Homo sapiens: one gene and its partners. The protein of the gene in region 7 purifies or fractionates together with the protein of the main gene of each other region. This does not show direct contact. Each region holds a gene or a part of one and is shown on either strand. Other genes may lie near its edges.

Region 1 (3,500 bases), on a different chromosome or scaffold from region 7:
GCTTGTTCTCAAATGTCTATTAGTGTGGATTTAGAACAGCCTTTAAAAGTTTCACTCAAAAACTTCCAAGTAATTGGCCTTACTACGAGGCAATACTCTTCAGAGTCTGCCTGATGCCCTGTGGATTGTGAGATCTCTCTGCTGAAGCTGGTGGAAAGGTGGTGGAAATAAATCCACTGGAACACGATTTATTTCTAGTTCTGTGTGAGATTGGGAGTTGTCTGTCCTACTGCTTTCCAGTGCTTCTTTATGCAGTTCCAGTTTTCTCATGAATGTGTAGATCATCCCTCCACCAAAGACTTGAGGGGACCCCTCTGCAGATCTCTGGAGCTTTCTCTCTGGGAAACTCTTCCTTCCTGTACTCTTCTCCACAAATTCTAGCTGTCCCAGCCTTCCCAAATCCTACTTTGTCTCAGTTCCTGGAGACCATCAGGTTGTGGTGGATTCTCCCTCCCTGCATAGCAGGCTAGGAATTGCCTCTAGACAGAAAACTGGGGCAAATGTTCAATTAACCCTTGTTGTTTCCTTCTTTCAGGGATTATGGTCTTGTGCTGCTTTTTATCCAATGTCTGAAAACTGTTGTTTCATATTTTGTTTTGTAGTTGTTTAAGGTGGGAAAGTAAATCTAGTCATTGTTACTCCATCATGGCTGGAAGCAGAAGTTGCCGTGTATATTGTCTAAAGTGGATTTATGCCAGTGGTTCTCAGGCAGATTTTATGGTTGTTTGTTTTTATCCTTACTATTGTCATTTCTTTGATTTTTTTCTTCTTACCCACTCTTAACTGATTCAGCCCTCCTCAACAGAAGTGAGAAAGAGAAAGTCATTTGAGCATTGTCTAAATACAGGGCACTTTAGGTACTGGGAAAAAAAATTTGTTCCTACCTTCATACAGATTTTGCATCAAATAAACAACACATAGGAAAGCAGTGAAAGGTTGAAGAAGAAAGGCTAGGGCCATTGAAAATTGTCCCTGTTTCTTTCTTTTTTTTTTTTTTTTTTTTTTTATTATTATTATATATTTTTTTGAGACAGAGTCTCACTCTGTTGCCCAGGCTGGAGTGCAGTGGCACGATCTCGGCTCACTGCAACCTCCACCTCCCAGGTTCAAGCGATTCTCCTGCTTCAGCCTCCCAAGTAGCTGGGACTACAGGCGCGTGCTACCATGCCTGGCTAATTTTTTGTATTTTTAGTAGGACGGGGTTTCACCGTGTTAGCCAAGATGGTCTCGATCTCCTGACCTCGTGATCCGCCTGCCTTGGCCTCCCAAAGTGCTGGGATTACAGGCGTGAGCCACCGCACCCGGCTGAAAATTGTCCCTATTTCTTAACTACAATAGTGAAAAACAGAATCGCAGAAGTGGTTATGAGTTAAGACTACTTAGAAATAAGAATGGAATCAGTGACAGAGAGGGAAAAGCATGGGTGAATAGGAGAGAAGACTAAGTGAAGAAGAGGGAAATTGGTGTTTAAGGAAGAAAATGGGAGAGGATGAGCTCAGACTCAGGTGAAGGAGAAAGCTTGTTTCAGTTGGAATGTTGGTCTGTTGTGAGGGCTAGTGCTCTAGGAGATCAAATAGCAGCCATTGGGACATGATCTGGTGGCATAGTGCAAAGAATATCTGCTCCCAGGCAGGGCGCGGTGGCTCACACCTGTAATCCCAGCACTTTGGGAGGCTGAGGCAGGTTATTCACCTGAAGTCAGGAGTTCTAGACCAGCCTGACCAACATGGCAAAACCCTGTCTCTACTAAAAATATAAAAATTAGCCAGGCATGGTGGCATGCGCCTGTAATCCCAGATACTCGGGAGGCTGAGGCAGGAGAATCACTTGAACCTAGGAGGCAGAGGTTGCAGTGAGCGAAGATTGTGCCACTGCACTCCAGCCTGGGCAACAGAGCAAGACTCTGTCTCAAAAAAAGAAGAAAGAATATATGGAAAATACAGAAGATTGATTTGACTTTGTCATGTCATTTCTCTTAGTTCCTGCGACCTGAAATACACAGAAGGAGTACAGTCCCTCAACTGGACTAAAATCATGAAGACCATTGTTGATGACCCTGAGGGCTTCTTCGAACAAGGTGGCTGGTCTTTCCTGGAGCCTGAGGGTGAGGTGCGTGAGTGTGGGGTTTCTTTTCTGGTACACAGTGTTGCCCGCTATCATTTGGTCAGTTAGAATGGAATATGAGTAGTACATAAGGGACTAGGCCATCTGGGAGAAGCTCTAAACACCACTTGATATTATTGTTTCTTCAAATTGATAAATTGATTGGGCAGTGGTAACTAACTCCTGACAAGATTTCTTGGAAATTACAAAAACTTTTCCTCAATGAGTTTCTTAGCATTTAGGGAAAAATCCTTCAGGGCATTTTGCAAAAATTATTTTTTAAAAAATGATCCACTTAACGTTTGTGTGATACGTAAATACAGAAAGTCTTTCTGTTGTTAATTTCCCTGGGTGAGGAAGGCTAACGTGAATTTTTCAGAAATGTAATAATACATAATAATAGTAAAATAATAATTGCACCTGACCACTAATTTTAAACAAGTCATTTTATCTCTTGATCCCTCAGATTATTTTGCTCTTGTTTTCTTCATGTAAATACTGGTATACTATGTGGGCTGAATTAATTCATTAAGTTAATAAGGTAAATGTCAAAAAAAAATCAGTATTATGCTCTAACTCACCAGGGGAGTGATGCTGAAGAAGGGGATTCAGAGTCTGAAATTGAAGATGAGACTTTTAATCCTTCAGAAGATGACTATGAAGAGGAAGAGGAGGACAGTGATGAAGATTATTCATCAGAAGCAGAAGAGTCAGGTTAGTCTTACAGAGCAAAGTTCGTCCTGGCTTCCTAATCTAATGTCATTTCTGAAAACTACTTTTTTTAGACTAAGAACTCTGTCGTTCCATTCTGTTCCCGCATGATGACTAACGCTTAATTAATTTTCTTCCAGACTATTCTAAGGAGTCATTGGGTAGTGAAGAAGAGAGTGGAAAGGATTGGGATGAACTGGAGGAAGAAGCCCGAAAAGGTTTTTAAAAATGTGTTGTTTTTTATTCATTTGTCTACGCACAAATTTCTAACACATTTCAATATTTTGAGGTGTTAGTATTGATGGCGTAATGAAAGTAACAAAAGAACACTATAAAAGTGCTTTGGAGCCACAGATACAACTTCATTGACTGAAGGAGAAAATGAGGTGTGGAATGTGTCCATACTCTCCAGTGGGCAGTGCTCTGCCAAACTGGATGCTGTTTTCATCTGCGCAAGCCCCCATCTTTCCTATAGCCATGATAGCCACATATTCATGTAATACTCAAGAATTAGCCTACTCAGTTTCCAAACCTAAATCCTATAATACTTTAATTTTCTAGGCTTCTTCCAGGTTAGGCATGTCTTTATAATGCTAATCTAGTTACTCTGAAGCCAAACCCCAAACAAACGTTTTAAAGCTTAAAAGGAAATAAATATTAACTGCTGTGTTCCAAGCATTGGGAAT
Region 2 (3,500 bases), on a different chromosome or scaffold from region 7:
GTTGCCCAGGCTGGAGTGCAGTGGCACAATCGTAGTTCAATGTAGCCTTGAATTCCTGGGTTCAAGTGATCCTCCTGCCTCAGCTTCCTGAGTAGCTGGGACTACAGGTGTGTGCCGTTGTGCCCAGCTAAGCTTTGCTTTTTCATTAAATAATTATTTTTAGTTTTTACTTTTTGGACCACTCATTATTGGAAGCTTTATTCTTTAGATCTGAAGGAGAGGGGTTCATGCCACCAGTTACTTGACCAGCAGAGAATGCACCTAAAATTGCTTCCTAGAATCTCTTTTGGGTTCTGCCACAGCATTTTGGATGAGTCTTGTGAGCCTCTGCTTCATGATCCCAGTTTCAGATTTAAAATTTGGAAAGTGAGTTTATGGCTATGTCCATGTGTGACAAAATGCATGGTGAGAAATCAGCATTGGGCATTAAATACAAAGTAGAGACGACAAAGTGAGGTGCTCAACTTGAGATTCAGGTAGATCTCTTTCCTACTAATTTCCCCTCCTCTCTCTCATGGTCACATATGTGTTTGTGGCCTTCTGGGATGAATATATATACATCTGTTTCTTCTGCTATAAAATTAAGTAAAATTTGGGTTTGTCTGCTGCTGGAAGAGTTTGGAATGGTATCTAGTTCAAAGCTTAGACCCTGCTTGAAAATATTCCAGGATTGCTCTTGATATGGAAGCTTTTTGTTCAGTTCTTCTAGATCAGCTAAGCCTCAATGTTCTTCAAAATGAAAGAGAATTGTCTTCATGAATTTTCTGGCTAGCCCATGCCTATTTGAGCAGTTTAACCTTTCATGTACACACTCAACCGTGGACCTTTAGTTGTGCTATCTTAAATTTTAAATATAAGTGTTCTGTCCACGAAGCCTTAAGACACAGGGCCCTGGGTACTTTCTTCCTTACTTATTTTTAACTGTGGCACTTTGTTAGTGGATTAGCTAATTTTGGTCAAGTCTATGAAAATACGCCTGGAAAAAGAGGCAAAAGTTGTAATCTGGTAAGCACTTGGATGATATCCCCTGAATTTTGACCCCGCTCTCCTTTCCCAGTTATTTGTATGAGCTTATGTGCTTGTAGGGGCTGAGAGCCTGTCTGTGTTTCAGTTTATCATTGTTGACTCCAGACACTCATAGTTCCTTTGAGGCGGGTGAATGCTTAGTAGTTATTTATCCACTCACCTCTGGAGGGGATGTGTGGCCAAGGCTTTGGAATAGTCTCAGGCCTTCTATGTGTGTGTGTGTTGGCACATACACAAATGCTCCCACCGAATCTGGTACAGACCATACACGCACTTGCACAAGTATTAGGAGTACTAGGTATTTAAAAGGGGCTCAGTTTTTCCAACATAACTGGCAGAAATTTTGAAGAGTCTAAATTACTGAATTACACAGTTTATCAAAAAGTCACTAATGGTGGTTCCAAAATTACCAGAAGTCCACAAAGCGGAGCTACCCTGCTGAATGATCCTAGCTTATGTTACACACTGGTTTCTAGTGGCTGGGTAAGCACAAAATGCTTGTTTTTTAAGTGCTTGGCAGGCAATAACACCTTCAAAATGAAAAAAGATGTAACCACTGAGTATAAGTTTTAAAATAATAAGAACAAAAAAAATTTTTTTGTGCTTACGTTGGGCTTATTCCATCTTGAATTTCATTAGGTTGATGTATTAAATGAATTTTACATTTTATTATTGTAACAATTAGAATCCTTTGCTATTGGCAAGGCTGACAGTTGATGTTTGAGCAGAAAGATAAGTGTCTTGAGTGGCAGCTACGTTTACTTGGAAATGCCTCTTATCCCTGTCAAAGCAAAGAGGTATCTTTGTGTCCTCTCCCTTTTGAAGGGAAACAGTTGGGATTCTAATGCAAACCTGAAATCTGTGGCAGATGCCAGAATGTACCATTTACAAAGCCCAGAGTCCCTAGAACAAAGTATTTCATTGATGTTCTGGTAATTTTCTTGCCTTTGCAAGTTCTTGTAAGAATGGAAAGAAAGATAGTTTCTCCAGCATACTTTTTTTTCTTTTTGGCTTATGACAGGAAATATGGGTTTCTGTTAGTGTTCTATATTTTAAGTCTTTTGTTGCAATGTTGTTCTGATCAAATGTTTGTGATAGCATAGTTAGGAGCTTATCCACATTCTTGGTTAGAAGATCAAGGGCAAGAGCTTGAAGGGCTGAGGAGATAATGAGCAGTTGTGTTCTTCCATTTTGTTAAAGCATTGCATTTTAGATTCCAGGTAAAAGGATTTTTTCTAGTGTCTCAGCTGATTTCACTTGCTTTGGTTGATGCAGGTGAGAAAGAAGAGTCCCCTTGGGCTCCTAGAATATTGAAGGCAGAGACTTCTGTGAAGCGAGTTGTCTGTTTCCTTGCATAAGGGCTATGTGACCATTAATCCTTGTCTGAGGGGTGCTTTGACCGTCTTGAGGGACATGTGTGCCTATCTCAGCCATCACTGACAAGTCTGGCTGGCTCATGAAGTCTGTGCTCGTCTAGATCACTACTACCCTCTACTGACAGTTTCCTACCCTGTCTCTTTGGTCGACCCGCCATGTGGCCCCCATGGGTCAGGCCTCTGTGTTTGTACTAATGAACATTACGCTTTCTTACCAGGAAGAGGAAGAACAGGAGGAAGAAGATGATGATGAAGATGATGATGACACCGATGATTTAGATGAGCTTGACACTGACCAGTTGCTGGAGGCGGAGTTGGAGGAGGACGACAATAATGAGAACGCAGGGGAAGATGGGGACAATGACTTCTCTCCCTCTGATGAGGAGCTAGCAAACCTTCTAGAGGAGGGAGAGGACGGGGAGGATGAAGACTCTGATGCAGATGAGGAGGTGGAACTGATCCTGGGGGACAGTAAGTATAGGGCAGAGTTCAGGCTGAGCCTTGGCACCCAGGGCAAGATCCCTTCTTTTGTGCCCATACAACTTAGAGGGCAAGCCATACCACGGTTCTGTGCCCCATAATTTGATTCACTACTCTGGTCTCTTGAGGCAAAGCACCTTTGCATCTCTGCCCTCCTCTCCTGTCAGACTGTGGAACCCAACCAAATGGCTGTCATTTCTTATCTTTCAAGTAGAGATTGGCAGACTTTTTCTGTAAGATCAGACAGTAAATATTTTATGCAGCCGGGCACGGTGGCTCACGCCTGTAATCCCAGCACTTTGGAGGCTGAGGCGGGTGGATCACCTGAGGTCAGGAGTTCGAGACCAGCCTGGGCAACATGATGAAATCCTGTCTCTACTAAAAATACAAAATTAGCTGGGCGTGGTGGCACATGCCTATAATCCCAGCTACTTGGGAGGCTGAGGCAGGAGAATCGCTTGAACCTGGGAGGCGGAGGTTGCAGTGAGCCGAGATCGTGCCACTGCACTCCAGGCTGGGATAATAGAGTGAGACTCCATCTCAAAAAAAAAAAAAAAAAAAAAAAAATGCTTTGTAGGGTATATGGCCTTTGTTGCAGCTCTTCAACTCTGCTGTTGT
Region 3 (3,336 bases), on a different chromosome or scaffold from region 7:
AATTCTGTTTTAAACCAAAGACCAGTTATTAAAATGATTAAAGCTGTACATTTGCACTGTGTAAAGAACATGTAATTTTCTAAAAAGCAAATAATTTCATAATACAGTACCTAGGAAATTTTTCTGAATGGAAAGCAAATAAATCAGAATGGGTTCAAACTGGAAAATATCCTATGCCTGATATTCTATGTACTATCACAAAATCTAAAGGTAAGCAAGACAATAGATGTTGAATTTTTTGCCTCATTGTCTTCGATCATATTTCCATTCATCTGTAATGCCCCTACAGACTCATGAAAACCCTTCGAGGTTTTCTTACAGAGGTTTAGAGCCACTCTGAGGACACTTTATCCCTTACTATAGATAATGGTTATCTCTTTCCTGCTCTTCCAGTTTGCTTTCAATACCTGGTAAAGGCAAGCCAGCTATATAGTTAACAGCCATCAAATACCTGGCTTCCTCATAATTAACCAGAAGCCCTAGTTCCTCTAAAACAGCAAGAATGAGATAAGGTAGTTAATATTCAGTATCTTGTTGCTAAGTTGTAAAGTCATGATAGTAAATGTGGTAAACATTCTATGATGTGAGCCAGAACCAATGAAATTGCTAGTTTAGCTTTTTGACCCTGTTCCTTCTCCCTGGAGGTTAATGCAAACACAAGTCCTCTTTGACTAACCCCATCCCTGAGTTTCTCAAAGTGCGCTCTATAGAGCGGTAACACCAGAGTCATCAGTAGGTATTCGTATTTTAATCTGCACTCTAGACCAACTAACAAAGATTGTCTGTGTATTTTGATTCACCCAGTAACAGTCACATTCAACCACAAATGATCTTCCAGTGATTAAATTTGTAAGGAAAAAACAGCATAGAATTTGTATTTGACTAAATATACAATGTTGTCATCTCTGTCACCTTAAGCACTTTTTTTTTCTACACAGTTCGTCATATAGAATTTGCAGGACTAAGCAACAGTTTTTTTTAAGTTTACTACCATTAACCATTTCAACCAGAATTAGTTTTGATCTGCCAGTCTCAATCTACATCTCTAGCATTATTAGAACTAAACTTTCCAGTGAAATGACTCTAACAAGACAAGGATACCAAACTGGGTATTCAGTGTGCGTTAGGGGTTGTGGGAGGAGGAGAGCAGATATTTAATAAATCATGAGTGCTGTGTGCACAGGATAAGGTGTGCTGGGTTCTATGTGATGTTGGGAGGAAATACGGATAAGGACATAGGTAGAGGATGTATATATTTTGTAATTTGCTATGAGACGGGCATTATTGTACGGGGAAGTTCTGTGCTTACAGAAATTGTCTAGGCTGTGTGGAAAGATGGGTTGGCTTAGGATAGTGACTACCATTGCAGAAGCAGAGGAGGCTGGCTGAGGTGGAGGGAATGAGCATTTGAATGTGAAATTATCAGATCAGAAGTGAAGTCCATCTCTTGATTGCAGGATGTGGAGCAAGGTGACAGACACTGAGACTGTTTATGGATTCTTGCATAAACCTGTGTACATGGCTTGAATTTGTGCCATTTAGGTACTGTCCATAAGACCTAGAGACAGTTCCACTAACCTTAGGGGCAGGCATCTCAGATGGTTTCAGGACATGGCCAGCTTCCTTGTATGATATGTAAGTACTACATAACCAGTGGTGACAACCAGGGCCAAGCAGCCCAGGACAGCCATAATTAGCATGTATTTTCCTAAATAAAGCCTCACCCCATCCTAGCCCACCTCATCAATCAAACTACTTCCAATAGTAAAGGTTGATTTATAATGATGAAGTTTTTAACTTGTAGAATCTCTTCAAACCCATAAGCAAATAGTATCTGCTCAAAAGACGGGTTCCCAGGCCTGCCACTGATCATCTGTAGAACCTGAACCTCAGTTTTGTCTATAAAAAGGGGAGAGCAATATTCCTTATCCTGCCTTCAGCCATGAAGATTAGCTGACATAATACATATCAAAGTATAGAATAAGGTGTGTTACCGTTTACTATGAGTGCCATGATGCTTAGCAAAATTATATGGGAATATGTATGGATTTATGGGATAATCCTATATGATGGTATAGCCAAGATTCTAAATATGTAGTTTTTAAAATTTTACTAAAATTCAAAATAGCACTGTAAGACAGGGCAAGAAGAAAAAAAGTAGGCCATTCTTTATTCAAAAACCAATCTACAAATAGAGTAGACTTGTTAATTTTGCTCTCCTTACCTGTTTGCATTGGGCTTCACCGTGCCCAGAATTGTTATCAGCATGCGAGGCACCACTCCCCCAGGCAAAGGCAGGTTATAAGGCACAATCTGGGAATTAACAAGTACATATGTGTCAATAAGGAGTCATGTTTCTTTGGGGAAAAAACGATGTTGCTAAAGTTCCATCACTATTAATATGTGTGAAAAACACATAACTCTAGTATATGCCATCTGTCCAGACTCTCAGGCCACTTTGCCCAGGGGCCAAAGAGATAAGGCTCCCTAGATGTACAAATAATTGAAAAGAAAGCCATCAGTAAATCTCATTACTACGGCCATCCCAATTTGTACTCATTCATGTTGACTATTTTTGGAAAGGCTTAAGCTAGATCTTGTGATCAACATTAACATTTTTGTATCACTCTTAAGGCCCTGTCATGGTACATGCTTTACTGTGGATATTCTGCTTCCTGGGGGCAAGCAGCATATCACATTCTGGGCTTGTGGGTTCTCATATGCTTTGTACTCACATGGCTCCAGCAGAGTGCTTTGCATATGGCAGATACTCAATATTTATGGAATGAACACTGTTAACACTGTGAGGTTCATTCCACAAATGTTTATTGACCAACTACATTCAAGGTACTGTGAATATCCCCAAAGCTCTATTTATTTATGGCCTCTTTTCTTTCCCTTTTTAAGACTTCCCCCTGGGTTTAACTATCACCCAAACCTTTTTATTTTTTGAGACAAGGTCTCAAAAATCCGAGTCTCAGTTGTTGAGGATGGAGTGCAGTGGTGTGATCATAGCTCACTGCAGCCTCAACCTCTTGGACTCAAGTGATCCTCCTGCCTCAGCCTCCCACAGTGGTGGGATTACAGGCATGAGCCACCACACCCAGCCTATCCAAATATTTTCTTTCTAGTCCTGGTGTGTACTAGTCCTGTACTTCCTCCCACCTAGATTTGCTGCTAGTGCCTCAAATTCAACAAGTGTGAACTAGAATGGTCTTCCCTACCCCCTCCCCCATCAGTTCCCCTTCATGAGTTCCCAGTTTGGGCTAAAGCTTTGCTGATGGCTCTAGTTGCTCAGCCTTGAAAAGTCAGAGTCCTCTATGACTCCTAAGACAT
Region 4 (3,500 bases), on a different chromosome or scaffold from region 7:
GAACTCCTGGCCTCAACTGATCCACCAGCCTTGGCCTCCCAAAGTGCTGGGATTACAGGCGTGAGCTACCGTGCCCGGCCCATTCACAAGATATAAGAGCCAAAAACTATGAATTGGCTGATTTGTTTTCTGCTTTCTATTATATATTCAATTTGGTTGGCATTTATTGAGTACTTACCATCCTGGGCACAGTGCTAAAGAGTAAAAACCGTGGCTGGGCGTGGTGGCTCACGCCTGTAGTCCCAGCACTTTGGGAGGCCGAGGCGGACAGATCACGAGGTCAGAAGTTCAAGACCAGCCTGGCCAACATAGTGAAACCCCGTATCTGCTAAAAATACAGAAAATTAGCCAGGTGTGGTGGTGGGCACCTGTAATCCCAACTACTCCGGAGGCTGAAGCAGGAGAATCACTTAAACCTGGGAGGCAGAGGTTGCAGTGAGCCAAGATCACGCCATTGCACTCCAGCCTGGGCGACAGTGCGAGACTCCGACTCAAAAAAAAAAAAAAAGTAAAAACCGGTTGGGCGCAGTGGCTCACACCTGTAATCCCAGCACTTTGGGAGGCCGAGGCAGGCGGATCACGAGGTCAGGAAATCGAGACCATCCTGGCTAACATGGTGAAACCCCGTCTCTACTAAAAATACAAAAAATTAGCCGGGCATGGTGGTGGGCGCCTGTAGTCCCAGCTACTCGGGAGGCTGAGGCAGGAGAATGGCGTGAACCTGGGAGGCGGAGCTTGCAGTGAGCGGAGATCGTGCCACTGCACCCTAGCCTGGGCAACAGAGCGAGACTCCGTCTCAAAAAAAAAATTAAAAAAAAAAAAACGACTTGTTAGATGTGGTTCTTATTCTCAGGGAATTCCTGATCTCATTGTCAGGAGAGAGGTGAATGTCAAGTTGATGGTATGACATGGGCAGTTTTGTGCAGTGTCTACAAACACGGCCATTGCAGTCTGGATCTAAGTTCTGAGTTTGGCTTCAAAAAACAAGGTCAAAAACCCTTGACAGGGTGGGGAAAATGGGGAATTGCTGTTGAGTGGGTATAAAGTTTCAGTTATGCAAGATGAGTAAGTTCTAGAGATCTGCTACACAACATAGTTCCTGTATTAATCGTATAGCATTATGCACTTTGAATTATGTTGAGGATGGATCTCATGATAAATATTATCACCAAAAACAAAATACAAGGAAATTTTGGAGGTGTATTTAGTGTTTTTTTTTTTCTTTTTTGAGACGGAGTTTCGTTCTTGTTGCCCAGGCTGCACAGTACAATGGCGCAATCTTGGCTCACCGCAACCTCCACCTCCCGGGTCAAACGATTCTCCTGCCTCAGCCTCCCAAGTAGCCAGGATTACATACAGGCATGCACCATCACACCTGGCTAATTTTGTATTTTTACTTAGGACGGGGTTTCTCCATGTTGTTCAGGGTGGTCTCGTACTCCCGACCTCAGGTGATCCACACACCTCAGCCTCCCAAAGTGCTGGGATTATAGGCGTGAGCCACCACGTGCTTAATAAAGCTACCTTAATAAAGCTTTTTACAAAACATTGGCAGACCCGGGCACAGTGGCTCAGTCACATGTATAATCCCAGCACTTTGGGAGGCTTAGGTGGGAGGATTGCTTCAGCCCAGGAGTTCAAGGCCAGTCTGGAAATGTGGCAAGACCCCATAATTGCAGAAAATTAAGCTAATTCATATATGCATCATCTCACATCCTTGTCATTTTTTGTGATGAGAACACTTAAAAATCTGCTCTCAGTTATTTTCAGGTATACGTTATTATTAACTGTAATATTCATGTTGTATAATAGATCTCTTGAACTTATTCCCACTGAAATTATATGTCCTTTACCAGTGTCTTCCCCACTACATGTGTAAGATTTAAATTAGTTTTGTTAGTAATTCTTTAATATCATCAGATATCCAGAGTTGAAATTTCTAATTGTCTTGTGTCACATCTTTTTCACCATTTATTGGTTTGAATCAGGATCCAAAGAAGATTCATGCATTGTGATTGATTACTGTCTCTTTAAGACTCTTTTATCTGTATCAGAGTTTCTCAGCCTCAGTGCTCTTGACATCTTGGGCCTGATAATTCTTTTTTTTTTTTTTTTTGAGATGGAATCTCGCTCTGTCGCCCAGGCTGGAGTGCAGTGGCGCGATCTTGGCTCACTGCAAGCTCCGCCTCCCAGGTTCACGCCATTCTCCTGCCTCAGCCTCCCAAGAGCTGGGACTACAGGCGCCCACCACCACGCCCGGCTAATTTTTTTGTATTTTTTAGTAGAGACGGGGTTTCACCGTGTTAGCCAGGATGGTCTCGATCTCCTGACCTCCGGTAATCTGCCCGCCTCAGCCTCCCAAAGTGCTGGGATTACAGGCGTGAGCCACCGTGCCCGGCCTGGCCTGATAATTCTTTGTGGTGGAGGACTGACCTGTGTCTTGGAGGATGTTTAATAGCATCTCTAGCTTTCACCCACGAGATAACAGTAGCACATCCCAGCCCAGTAGTGACAACCAAAAATGTGTTAGCCAAATGTTCCTAGAGGCAAAGTCACCCCAGGCTGAGAACTACTGATCTACTGGTTCTCCCTCCAATCAGTCTTCCCTTGTATTCTTCTTGTTATCTATTTGCAGAAGAACCTGAGTATAATCTTGCAGTGTTTCCCTCGGTATGGATTTCACTGATTTAATCCCTGTAGTATAATTTAACATCCTGAGTCACCAATTTCCTGTTAATTGGGTTGGATCTAGAGACTTGATTGGTTTCAGAGTTTTGGAGTTTGTTTGACAAAATTGCATTATAGGTAGTGGTTTTTTCTTTTTCTTTTTTTTTTTTTTTTTTTTGAGATGGAGTCTTGCTCTGTCCCCCACGCTGGAGCGCAGTGGTGCAATCTCGGCTCACTGCAAGCTCCGCCTCCTGGATTCAAGCTATTCTTCTGCCTCAGCCTCCCGAGTAGCTGGGACTACAGGCGCCCGCCACCATGCCTGGCTAATTTTTTTTGTATTTTTAGTAGAGACGGGGTTTCACCGTGTTAGCCAGGATGTTCTCGATCTCCTGACCTCGTGATCCGCCCGCCTCAGCCTCCCAAAGTGCTGGGATTACAGGCGTGAGCCACTGCACCTGGCCAGTAGTGGTTGTTTCTTTCATCAAGAGGCACATGTCTGTTGTGTCTTTTTTAATATTAACAACCATTGATGCCTAATTCATTCACCAAAGGGTCTTTTTGTTTTAAAATGTATATTTTTATTTAGACATGCTTTGCTTTAAATAACAATCTGTGTTCTCCCTTAATAAAGGCAGGGGAAATGGAAGGTGATGCAGTCGAAGCCATTGTGGAGGAGTCCGAAACTTTTATTAAAGGAAAGGAGAGAAAGACTTACCAGAGACGCCGGGAAGGGGGCCAGGAAGAAGATGCCTGCCACTTACCCCAGAACCAGACGGATGGGGGTGAGGTGGTCCAGGATGTCAACAGCAGTGTACAGATGGTGATGATGGAAC
Region 5 (4,270 bases), on a different chromosome or scaffold from region 7:
ATTCTCAGACCCACAGTAAGTAGAACCAAAGCTAGGACTGGAGCCCAGGTCTACTGGGGCCAAGATGAGGCCCCTCTATTTTCTGTTTTTACAAACGGCACCTCTTGCAGGGGTGGGGGCAAAAGGGATTGGGTGTAGGAAAAGTTAGTGTGTATGTGGGGGGTGTTCAGTGAGGGGAGGGCCCTGGGAGGTAATGTCCTTTGGGGCACATCGGGGGACCTGCTAGAGAAGCCAGTCCAGGCATAGCCAGAATAAAGAGTGGAAGAAGTAAGGTGAAGGAAGGAGGATGGATGCTGTCGCATCAGTCTGAGGGCTTCAGAGGCACTAGAAAGAGCTGGCTGGCTCGCTCTTGAATCTAGTTCTGGCCCTATTTTCCATGACTAGGAACTACCTTATGATGCCCCCATCATCTCCCAAAGAACTACAGATGGCAACTCATAGGGCATAGAAATTTGGGGAGGGGGCCTCCTGCAGGAACATAGTACTCACTGGGTACCAGGCACTGTTCTAACTGCTGTGTAGATATTATCTCATTCAATCTTCGTAGCAACCCTATGAGGTAGATGGTATTATCCCCCATTTTACAGATGAGGAAACTGACACACAGGGAAGTCAAGGGATTCATCTGAGATGAGAAAGCCAAGACTTGAACTCAGGTACTTTGCTTTCAGAATCTATGCCAGTAAACTACATTACTTCTGCATGCATCTGGGGTGAGGACAGAAGGGACATGTCACATCTAGGTGAGCCGCATAGCTCCCCAGGCCAACAGAAGGAGTCCCTCTGGGCTCCTTCCAGAGAGTGTGGAGCCCTAGGCCAGAGAGTGTGGTCCTGCAGCACATCCAGTGCTGGGGCACCCACACTGTGAAACGGATGCAGACTCTCCAATGCAAGTGTAGACAACCTGGAACAGCACAGGGCACAGTGATCACCCCCTCCCACCAACAATTCTCCTTGACAGGTTCTTATTTCCCCATCTGGTTTGCAGTGTGGACAGAAGGCAGTTGAGGTAATTTTGGGTGATGAGCTAGAAGTGGCAGGGCCTTCAGGGAAAACAGCTTGGGGTCACAGTGTTCATGTCAACCCTTCAGGAAAGGCTGGACTGAGTTAGGCATTTGGGAGGCTGGTCTCAAATGGGGTGGGCCAGGGCAGCCAAGCCTATGCCACAGGACTGGGAGGTCCTGACTGAGCCTCCATGTGTCTTCCTCCATGGAAAAGATATCAAGGCTGCCTCAGGAGAGAAACTGGACAAAGGCACAGACACTGAGGATGAAGCCTGTTCCAACAGGAGCCAAGGAATGACGCTGTGTCAGAGAGAAAGCAGAGATGTCCACTGTGTCCTCTCAGCTGCCCAGCCTCCCTTCTTGCTAGTCTGGCAGGCGCACGAAAGACACCTCTGGCCTGAAGAAAGAAGAGGGAGCACTGGAAGGGGCAGGGACTCCATGACTCATCTAGACAAGGTGGCTTTAAGGAGCCTAGGCTATTGGTGTAAAAGCAACAGCTCTGGGCACAGAGCAAGGTCTCTCTGGGCCAGGAGGACCAGGTCTGTGCCAACTGCAGAACACGAGATAGACTGGAGGCTGGCTGATGGGAACATCTCTAAGTCCCTCTAAATTCCAGGGGGACTCTAGTGGAAGGCTAGAGGACTCTGCCCTTCTCTTTCCCATCTATTATGTCCATGAACAGTTTAGATGGATGGGTGGTGGCCACTAAAGCCTCCAACCCCAAGGGTACTAAAAAAGAGAGGGATATACAGTAAAGCAGTGATTGGTATGAAAGGAGCAGGGTTTGCTGAGATGGCAAGTGACCTGGGAGGGCAGGAGGGCAAGCCCCCACCAAGAGTGAGTGAGTGCCTGTCCTGGAGCAAAGAGGCGCCCAAAGTTACCCTCCCCAACCTCCCGCCTCCCAGAAGGCCTCCAGATCTGCCTTCGGGAGCCCAGGCTCCCCTCGCTGCTGGAGGGACAGCGAAAGGGCAAAGAGCTGGCTCATATTGGAGGAAACAAAGCTCCGCTGGACAAAGGATGGAGCAGGCAGCTCCGGCTGAGACCTGGCCCTGTCCCCCGAGGAGGGTCGCAGATGAGGGGATCGTGCTGCTTCTTTCAGCCTGAGCATCGCTGACTATTCTGCGCTGGGCAGTTAAGGCTGCACGGCCCGACCACGGTTAACCTTGCACACCTCCTCTCCCCACCCGCTTAGCCCCTGCTCCGCCACACCCGCGCGGCCTGACGCGGTCCAGGCACGCCCAGGCTTTGGGGAGCCTCTGGGGCGGCCCGGATGGGGCAAGGAGAATTTTGGTCGTTCTTGGATGCTGTTTCCTTCCTTCGCCGCCCCTCCGTGCGAGCGGGATCGTGGAGCCCAGACTTTCATGACCAGGACAAGGGGGTCCGCGAGGCGGAGGGAAGTCTTTAGACCCGTACCGCCCGCCCACCCACCCCCCGGGCTAGATCTCGGACAAGCCTGGAAACGCCCAGGGTCGTGCCCGGCAGTCCCACCCAGGGAGCCGCGGGCTGAGATTTTCCCAGTCCGGAGAAGGGGCAGAGAGGCGGGCCCGGGGTGGTGTGGAGGCGGCCGAAGGAGCTGGGGGCTCCCTGTCCAGGGCCCGGAACAGCTTTCCAGGGGTCCACCCCTGCAGGGTCTCCCGCTCGCGCGGGCCAGGCACTCACCGTGCAGGGTCAGGAAGTCCCGGCCCGAGTCCATGCCCGACGGGCGGCGCGGCGGGAGGGGCACCGCGGGACTCACTTGAGTAGCGACAGCACCGGCGGCCTGGGGTCCGAGCGGAGTGCGGTGCAGGGACCTGAATGGACCGCGGTGGGAGGAGGCCGGGGGTGGTCCCGGGACACCGCCCCGCCCCCGCTGCCCTGCGCCCCCGCCCCCTGAGCCCGCCAACCCTCGTCTCTCCCCGCCCCCTTCTGGGGACGCGAGAGGGAGGGCAGAGCTGGGGGCCCGGAGGACTGGCCAACCCTGGCCCGGGCCAGCGGGCGCGCCCCGACCAGAAATAGCCAGATTCCTCCAGCTTCCTCCGCCGCCGCCACCCACGGGCCGCGGGCCCTGTCATTACCGCGGGCGGCCGGGCCCCACGCCCTGTTGTGGGCGCCTCGCTGGGGTCGGGGTGATGCTGGAAAGAATCCGGCGTCATCCCGGGGAAGGGATCGTGTAAGGTCCGACGCCCAGCCGGGCTGCTGCGCTAGGGAGACGCGGCGTCCAGGCTTCCAGCCGCAGCTCCCAGCGTTCGCATTCCCTTCTGCGAAATGGGTGCACGGACACGATTAGAAGGTCTTCAGAGAGCAATACCTGGACCTTGTCGGGAGGAGGGTCCCCTTCCCTCTCGCTGGGAGGTTTCTAACCCCAAGAGTGCCTTTGGTGGAGTGTTGGGGGTGTGGGAGGGGGAAGCAAGCAGGTGCACGGATTTCACTTTTGAGCCACTCATATCCCAAAACCCCAGCGATCCATGCAGCCGAGGGGGAGGATCCCCAGGGTCCCTTCTTCAGGTGGCCTCCCAAGGGGCTGTCTGGGCAAGGTCCCTATGCAGACCCACCCCCTAACTCTTGGGACCCAGAAAACCCCCTTTATAGGTTGCCCAGAGACCCCTCCCACCACAGACCCTGGGAGGGTCCCTAGATCCTGTTGCCCACCACCCCTTTGGAGAGTCCCTTGGGAAAACTGGGCTCTTGGTGTCAGAGAGCCCCCAGAGGGCCTCCCAGGAAGCCACCCAGGCCTCCTGGGCTGATAAGGCCAATGTGAGAGTCAGGCAAAGCTAGTTGGACCAGCTCTGCGGGGAGGGGGCTGGGCTCACCCCAATCCCTCCTCTTCTGGGCCCTAGGTGGCCTTGAATAAGGGATGTGAAACAGCTGAAGGACAGTCTTCTGGTTCTGGGGGTTAAAAGTGGATCAGGACTTCTGGGCTTTGGAGAGCCCCCTGCTCTGCATGCCCCCTCTCCACAGACGGGGCTTCACCCCTTACCTGGCACTCAGCTCCAATCCTGTCCTGCAGTGCGAACACCCCTGCCCTGGGCAGGCCTGTCAGTTCCTTCCTTGGTTTCCCTTCTGCCCAGGGCCACACTCCATGTTTGCTGAGGGATGAGCAAATTCATACTGGCAGGCATCACTCTGGACCTCCATACAGGGGATGAGTGGGGAAGAAGGGTCCCCTTCTCTGCCCTCTGGAGGCCTCCTCAGGCCTTGGAGCCTACCACTTGCACCTCTGATACTCCTGGAGCCTGCAAGCCCCTGTACTCAGCAAATCAGGCCTCCTCAAGCCCCCCTCCTCTTCC
Region 6 (3,500 bases), on a different chromosome or scaffold from region 7:
CTCCCTCTACCTGTGTATTATAAGGATACATATGATTGCAATTAAGAAACCACTTGGATGAACCAGGATAAATTTCTCCAATCCTATCTTTTAATTCAACCTGAGAGAGCAGATTTAAAATATATTTTATTCCTAAAGTGGCAGGTCCCTGAAAAAAAAATGTAGATTCATGTTTATTTTGAGACAGAGTCTCGCTTTGTCACCCAGTCTGGAGTGCATTGGTGTGATTTTGGCTCACTGCAACCTCCGCCTCCCAGGTTCAAGCTATTCTCCTGCCTCAGCCTCCTGAGTAGCTGGGATTACAGGTGCCTGCCACCGTGCCCGGCTAATTTATGTATTTTTGATAGAGACAGGATTTCACCAGTTTGCCAGGCTGGTCTAGAACCCTTGACATCAGGTGATCCGCCTGCCTCAGCCTCCCAAAGTGCTGGGATTACAGGCATAAGTCACCGCGCCCGGCCGGATTCATCTTTTAATCACATCTTTTGCTATATAAAATAACATTTACAGGTTCAAGGGATTAAGATAAGAATCTCTTTGGGGGAGGGCCATCATTCAGACCACTACACATTGGTTCCCTAACCTCTACCCAAATAGATTTGAGCTAATTCAGAAAAGAAAATGTTATTTTTAAAGAAACAGAGGCAAGTGAAAAAAGGCTCAGAAACCTGGGTTCTTGTCCTGCCTCTGCCATTATCTAATGGTGTAACCATGGGTGAGCCATTTGCCCTCTTTAGTCCTTAGTTTCTTTATCTTATAGGGAAGGAGTTGGATAAGTGATCGTTAACAAGCCTTCTAGACCTAAGACTTTATGAAGTGATTCCTAAGTCATCTTGGAGTTTGTTTTTTAAGTCAATAATTTAAAATGTGAATCAAAACATTACAAATTACAACATTTTGGGTGAGGGTAGTCCTGTTCTTGCCTAGGACTTGAAGGATGGAAGACTGAGCTGTTGGCTGACTGTCAACTCCTTGGGGTATTAACACAGGATAACTAACCTGTATTTGTTAGCTGTGTGCTTAAACCTTTCTGAAGAAAAGATTTTCTACAAGGGATGTAATAGACTAGCTGGAACATTTTCACTACATTTTTAGTGAGACTATAGACTGTGTAGCCTGAATTTTCTTTCCAGTAGTAGTAGTTCATCAAAATTAAACACTGACAGATTTTTTTCTACCTGAAACTAGGTCATAGAGTAAAAATTTTCACTTGCAGTCTTACTCTTCAGACTCACTGAATGCCTGTTCCATCCTGTTTCATTGCTAGGAAGGACACTAGATAAAGCCATGAGCTTGAGATGGTGTACTTGAAAGGACCGTTTCAAGATCAGGTTTTATAACACACTCATTATTTATTTCTTCTGTGGAGAGGAGAAACCAAATTGGATTCAAGTATTTTTCTGATAGTAATCTATGTTTCTTAGAATAAAGCAAGTTCATATCTGAGCCAGAGGGCATAATTATGTCAGAATAAAATATAATTATGTCGGAATAAAATGCCCTGTACTAAAGAGGTCAACTAACAGGCTGGGAAATCTTAAGTTTTGTTTTTAAGACAAATCCTTGAACTCTCTGTGCCTCGTTTCTCATCCCTAAATCTGTGCAACTCACCTCACAGGGAGTTGTGGAGGGTAATATACTGCTAATTTGTTCAGTGTTTCACAACAATAAATTATGCCTAAGATCTGATAAAACATAGCAAACCTCATTTATGTAAGTAGAGACAAGCATGGATAAGACTTACAGATAATAAAGAAAATTCATTAAAATTTTTTTAACTTCCTTGATTATTAAACATTTTTCCTTCTGTTTCCTATATATTTTCCAAAGTATTTTCCTATTGTTTTTCCATAATAGACTTATGAGATAGGGCAAATAACAAACACCAGGTTATATAATAAATGAATAAATTCATCAAGCGGACATAACAATCCTAAATGTCCTAAAAGCTAATAATAAAGCTTCAACATACACAAAGGAAAACAGAAATGAAGTAACAAGCCAGGTGCAGTGGCTCACGCCTGTAATCCCAGCACTTTGGGAGGCTGAGGTGGGTGGATTACCTGAGGTCAGGAGTTCCAGATCAGCCTGGCCAACATGGTGAAACCCTGTCTACTAAAAATACAAAAATTATCTGGGCATGGTGGCGTGCGCCTGTAATCCCAGCTACTTGGGAGGCTGAGGCAGGAGAATCGCTTGAACCTGGGAGGTGGAGGTTGCAGTGAGCGGAGATCGCGCCACTGCACTCCAGCCTGGGTGACAGAGCAAGACTCCGTCTCAAAAAAAGAAAAGAAAAAGGAAATAACAGACATCTGCAATTATATTTGGAAATTTCAGTGCCTCTCAGTAATTGATAAAACAGGTAGATGAAATCAGTAAGGAAACGGAAGACTTGAACAACACTACCAACAACCTGATATAATTGACATTTATAGAATAGTACAAGCAACAGCAGAATACATGTGCTTTTCAGGTGCACATGGAACTTTTACACAGACAGTTTACCTTCTGGGTCAATAAGTCTCAAATTCAAAAGGATTCAATCATAAAGGTTTTTTAAAAAAATTTAAACGGGGTCTTGTTCTGTCACCCAAGCTGGAGTGCAGTGACACAATCAACTCACTGCAGCCTGAAACTCCTGGGCTCAAGTGATCCTCCTGCCTCAGCCTTCTGAAAAGCTGGGACCACTGGCATGTGCCACCATGCTCAGCCACCCACCCTTTTTTCTTTTTTTGTAGAGACAGGGTCTCGTTATGTTGCCCGGATTGGTGTCAGACCCCTGGGCTCAAGTGATCCTCTCATCTCAGCTTCCCAAAGTGCTGGGATTACAGGCATGAGCCACTGTGCTTGGCCAAGGTATGTTTATTTCCTGATCATAGTGCAATTAAATAAAAAATCAGTAACAAAGACATCAAGAAAAATCCCTAAATATTTTGAAATTACACAACACACTTCTAAGTAACCCACCTACAAAGAGGAAATTACAAAGAAAACTAATACTTGGAACTGAATGAAAATGAAAAGATGATATATCAAAACTTTTAGAATGAGGCTAGGTGCTGTGACTGATTCCTGTAAACTCAACGCTTTGAGAAGCTGAGGCGAGAGGATCACTTGAGCTCAGGAGTTCAAGACCAGCCTGGGCAACATAGTGAGACCTAGTCTCTAGAAAAAATTAAAAAGTATCCAGGAGTGGTGGTTTGCCAGTAGTCCCAGCTAGTTGGGAGGCTGAGGTGGGATGCTTACTGGAGCCTGGGAGATCAAGGCTGCAGTGAGCTATGATCCTGCCACTGCACTTGAGCCTGGGTGGCAGAGACCCTATCTCAAAAACAAAACAAAATTGTGGGATGCAGTTAAGGAAGTGCTTAAAGGGAAATTTATAGCATTAAGTACTTTAACAACAAAAGCAGGTCACTGACAGGTTTGGCCCTGTGAACCTAGAAAAAGAACAAATTAAATCCAAAATAAACAAGAAAATAGTAATGATAAAAGCAGCAATT
Region 7 (3,500 bases):
CTCCAGATAATCTATTTAAATTACAGAAACTAGTGAAAGGAGATGTTAAATAGGTTTGTGAGGTGAGATATGGTGAGTTTTGACTTTTTTTCTTTTTTTTTTTTTTTGAGACGGAGTCTCGCTCTGTCGCCCAGGCGGGAGTGCAGTGGCGCGATCTCGGCTCACTGCCAGCTCCGCCTCTCGGGTTCACGCCATTCTCCTGCCTCAGCCTCCGAGTAGCTGGGACTACAGGTGCCTGCCACCACGCCTGGCTAATTTTTTGTATTTTTTAGTAGAGACGGGTTTCACCTTGTTAGCCAGGATGGTCTCGATCTCCTGACCTCGTGATCCACCCACCTCAGCCTCCCAAAGTGCTGGGATTACAGACGTGAGCAACAGCGCCAGGCTGAGTTTGTTTTAATTATTTTAACTCAATAACATGACAAGAGGGGAGGTCTTCACACTTCCGGGAGCAATGCTTACATTTAAGTATTGTTATCTTTTGTATTATAAAGGATGATGGTGTGTTGAATATTCTCAATAGAATGAACACATTAATTGACTAAATGTACATATCTCAGATATAAACAACAATTTTTATAATTTTATTTTGTCATTATGTAATCTTTCGAATGTACTAGAAGTCTCAGTCTCTCTTCAACTCCCTCTCCTTTTTGTTCTTTTACTGCACCTCAACTCCGATATACGTCAATCCACTTTAGTAATGGAATGCCATAAGTTGTCAACTTGTTGGCATCTGAAGTACCAACATTGCCATGGCCAGTGAGTCACAAATTGGGAAAAGGATGTATCAGCTACGACCAAGGTGGCGTTCTAATCAAGGTTGGGAAGGGTGGGGATCATTGCAGGGAGTGGGTGTTCCCTCTTCCCAATTACCTTTTAACTTTTCTCTTTTAAGAGTTTCAGCAAGGTCTCCCAGTGTTGGTATTTCTTTGAAGAATTCTATTAGTTTGCCCAAACCGGCATCACCTGGGAACTTTTCCTCCATCAAGTCAGCAATCTGAATTTTGTCATACTCTTCTTTCATTTTTGGATTAAGTTTTAAATCGTTACTCAGTAAGGACTTAACAATTCTAAAATGATAATCATTGATGACCTCTAATCCTTTCAGTAGAACAATTTTCTTGTAGTTATTTGCCATCTCTAAAGATATAAGTGAGCCTGCAAGAGAAAAATGGTATATAGTGTTACACATGTATACAGAGAATTTAAAAGAAGATGTATGCCTATGTGAATAAGTGGCCCATAAGAAAGAGTTGTTCATTGTGCCAGTTTTCAAAGGGAATTCTTCCAGTTTTTCTCCATTCAGTATGATATTGGCTGTGGGTTTGTCATAGATAGCTCTTATTATTTTGAGATACGTCCCATCAATACCTAATTTATTGAGAGTTTTTAGCATGAAGGGTTGTTGAATTTTGTCAAAGGCCTTTTCTGCATCTATTGAGATAATAATTTGGTTTTTGTCTTTGGTTCTGTTTATATGCTGGATTACGTTTATTGATTTTTGTATGTTGAACCAGCCTTGCATCCCAGGGATGAAGCCCACTTGATCATGGTGGATAAGCTTTTTGATGTGTTGCTGGATTTGGTTTGCCAGTATTCTATTGAGCATCAATGTTCATCAAGGATATTGGTCTAAAATTCTCTTTTTTTTGTTGTGTCTCTGCCAAGCTTTGGTATCAGGATGATGAAGCTGGAAACCATCATTCTCAGCAAACTATCGCAAGGACAAAAAACCAAACACCGCATGTTCTTACTCATAGGTGGGAATTGAACAATGAGAACACATGGACACAGGACGGGGAACATCGCACACTGGGGACTGTTGTGGGGTGGGGGGAGGGGGGAGGGATAGCATTAGGTGATATACCTAATGCTAAATGATGAGTTAATGGGTGCAGCACACCAACATGGCACATGTATACATATGTAACAAACCTGCACGTTATGCACATGTACCCTAAAACTTAAAGTATAATAATAATAATAATAAAAGAAAGAGTTGTCCATGAATATGTGTGATAAAGAAGGACTTAATGACCAAATGAGTTACTGTAGAAATTGAGTGAAGAACTTTTGCTTTAGGAATGTCCAAGTAATTCATCCCATTGAATGAGGATAGTTGAATTGGGTCCAGGTGTTAGAGGGAGGTCTGTGAACAAGCAATTGTCTCAGTGTTTAGAGTATGGGCTGTGGAGTGTCAAAGTGCTTGGTTGCTCTTCCCATCCTTTACTGGGGCTGGAGCCTATCCCCCAAAACCTGCCTGTTGTTTCTTAAATCTTCCCACACCCACCACTATGACTGGAGTGGCCTAGGTGTAAATGGGCTGCAGCCTCCCACCTTATATGAATAACTTTCTGCCGCAGCACTACAGTTTCATGCTGGGGCGCCGACCCTATTCTCCTTAACTCTTCTCTTGTCAGCTCTCATCAGTATCCTCTTCCTTGGTGTTGGACCCTGCCATATTTGTCCTCTGTGCCCATAAAACTATCACTTTCCTGAACATCTACATTTTCTCTATTGCAGGAACACAGGATTTATTGGCTGGAATATTTCAATAGTTGCTTGATTTTTCTTTTAGGCTTGATTTGTCTAATTCATTTTCATTTCACAGATCCACATTTCTCTCTATAAACCACATTTTTATCCCACTGAAATCTTTCAATATTTGCCCATTTTCTTTTCAATACATTCCTTGCTTCTTGTATTGTTTCAGAAGACTTTGAATAATCTGCATTCTTTTTTTTTTTTTTTTTAACCTCTGGCACTTGTGTGTTCCTTATATCTTACATTTCAGAAGTATAAAACATTTTCATGCTTCATGACTTTGCTAATTCTCTTCTCATTGCCTGGAAAGCCATTCCCACATTCCTCTATCTGACTGCCTCTCCTACAACATTTTAGACTCAACTGAGAGTTTGTCTTCTAGAAATTTTCAGAGTGCCCTTATGGACAGAGTGTTACTCCTCTGGACCTCTTTAGCACCAGTGCACTTTAGCACATGATGACACTCAAAGCATGCTATGGATTCCTGTTTCCTTTTTAAATTAACATAGCGCTTTGGGAGGCTGAGGGAGGCAGTTCATGTGAGGTCAAGGGTTCAAGACCAGCCTGGCCAACATGGTGAAACCCCGTCTCTACTAAAAATACAAAAGTTAGCCAGGCATGGTGGTGGGTGCCTGTAATCCATAATCCAAGCTACTCAGGAGGCTGAGGCAACAGAATTGCTTGAACCCGGGAGGTGCAGTCTGCAGTGAGCAGATATCATGCCACTGCACTCCAGCCTGAGTGACAAGAGCAAAACTCCACCTCGATAAAAATAAATACAAAAACAAATATTTTAATTATAGAAAACATGTATTTGTGTACCTCTTGTGTAATTTAGATATTTAAATTCCTGGGGCTGTTAATTGCTTTCTTCTTGAGAGAACATGAGTGTCCTCAGATTGATAAGCATAGAATGAAGGAAAAAATATATACAAAGACATATAGTGAAACTG

The links.
Region 1: the proteins of PYHIN1 (region 7) and SUPT16H purify together in Homo sapiens (affinity purification with mass spectrometry; 2 studies listed by BioGRID and IntAct, with this or other methods). This does not show direct contact.
Region 2: the proteins of PYHIN1 (region 7) and DCAF1 purify together in Homo sapiens (affinity purification with mass spectrometry; 5 studies listed by BioGRID and IntAct, with this or other methods). This does not show direct contact.
Region 3: the proteins of PYHIN1 (region 7) and LGALS3 purify together in Homo sapiens (affinity purification with mass spectrometry; 3 studies listed by BioGRID and IntAct, with this or other methods). This does not show direct contact.
Region 4: the proteins of PYHIN1 (region 7) and CTCF purify together in Homo sapiens (affinity purification with mass spectrometry; 2 studies listed by BioGRID and IntAct, with this or other methods). This does not show direct contact.
Region 5: the proteins of PYHIN1 (region 7) and PLCD1 purify together in Homo sapiens (affinity purification with mass spectrometry; 3 studies listed by BioGRID and IntAct, with this or other methods). This does not show direct contact.
Region 6: the proteins of PYHIN1 (region 7) and CBX5 purify together in Homo sapiens (affinity purification with mass spectrometry; 2 studies listed by BioGRID and IntAct, with this or other methods). This does not show direct contact.

What each region holds. Positions count from the first base shown.
Region 1 is NC_000014.9:21,353,020-21,356,519, reverse strand, and holds part of SUPT16H (FACT complex subunit SPT16), read left to right. Parts: intron 1-1,979; coding exon 1,980-2,109; intron 2,110-2,687; coding exon 2,688-2,817; intron 2,818-2,954; coding exon 2,955-3,032; intron 3,033-3,500. UniProt on the Homo sapiens protein: Component of the FACT complex, a general chromatin factor that acts to reorganize nucleosomes. The FACT complex is involved in multiple processes that require DNA as a template such as mRNA elongation, DNA replication and DNA repair.
Region 2 is NC_000003.12:51,402,516-51,406,015, reverse strand, and holds part of DCAF1 (DDB1- and CUL4-associated factor 1), read left to right. Parts: intron 1-2,620; coding exon 2,621-2,873; intron 2,874-3,500. UniProt on the Homo sapiens protein: Acts both as a substrate recognition component of E3 ubiquitin-protein ligase complexes and as an atypical serine/threonine-protein kinase, playing key roles in various processes such as cell cycle, telomerase regulation and histone modification.
Region 3 is NC_000014.9:55,139,252-55,142,587, reverse strand, and holds part of LGALS3 (galectin-3), read right to left. Parts: intron 2,314-3,336; coding exon 2,225-2,313; intron 5-2,224; coding exon 1-4. UniProt on the Homo sapiens protein: Galactose-specific lectin which binds IgE. May mediate with the alpha-3, beta-1 integrin the stimulation by CSPG4 of endothelial cells migration.
Region 4 is NC_000016.10:67,607,526-67,611,025, forward strand, and holds part of CTCF (transcriptional repressor CTCF), read left to right. Parts: intron 1-3,298; 5' UTR 3,299-3,307; coding exon 3,308-3,500.
Region 5 is NC_000003.12:38,026,843-38,031,112, forward strand, and holds the start of PLCD1 (1-phosphatidylinositol 4,5-bisphosphate phosphodiesterase delta-1), read right to left. Parts: upstream 2,801-4,270; 5' UTR 2,698-2,800; coding exon 2,664-2,697; intron 1-2,663. UniProt on the Homo sapiens protein: The production of the second messenger molecules diacylglycerol (DAG) and inositol 1,4,5-trisphosphate (IP3) is mediated by activated phosphatidylinositol-specific phospholipase C enzymes. Essential for trophoblast and placental development.
Region 6 is NC_000012.12:54,270,123-54,273,622, reverse strand, and holds part of CBX5 (chromobox protein homolog 5), read left to right. Parts: intron 1-3,500. UniProt on the Homo sapiens protein: Component of heterochromatin that recognizes and binds histone H3 tails methylated at 'Lys-9' (H3K9me), leading to epigenetic repression. In contrast, it is excluded from chromatin when 'Tyr-41' of histone H3 is phosphorylated (H3Y41ph).
Region 7 is NC_000001.11:158,934,552-158,938,051, reverse strand, and holds part of PYHIN1 (pyrin and HIN domain-containing protein 1 isoform alpha 1), read right to left. Parts: intron 1,162-3,500; 5' UTR 1,142-1,161; coding exon 877-1,141; intron 1-876. UniProt on the Homo sapiens protein: Major mediator of the tumor suppressor activity of IFN in breast cancer cells. Promotes ubiquitination and subsequent degradation of MDM2, which leads to p53/TP53 stabilization.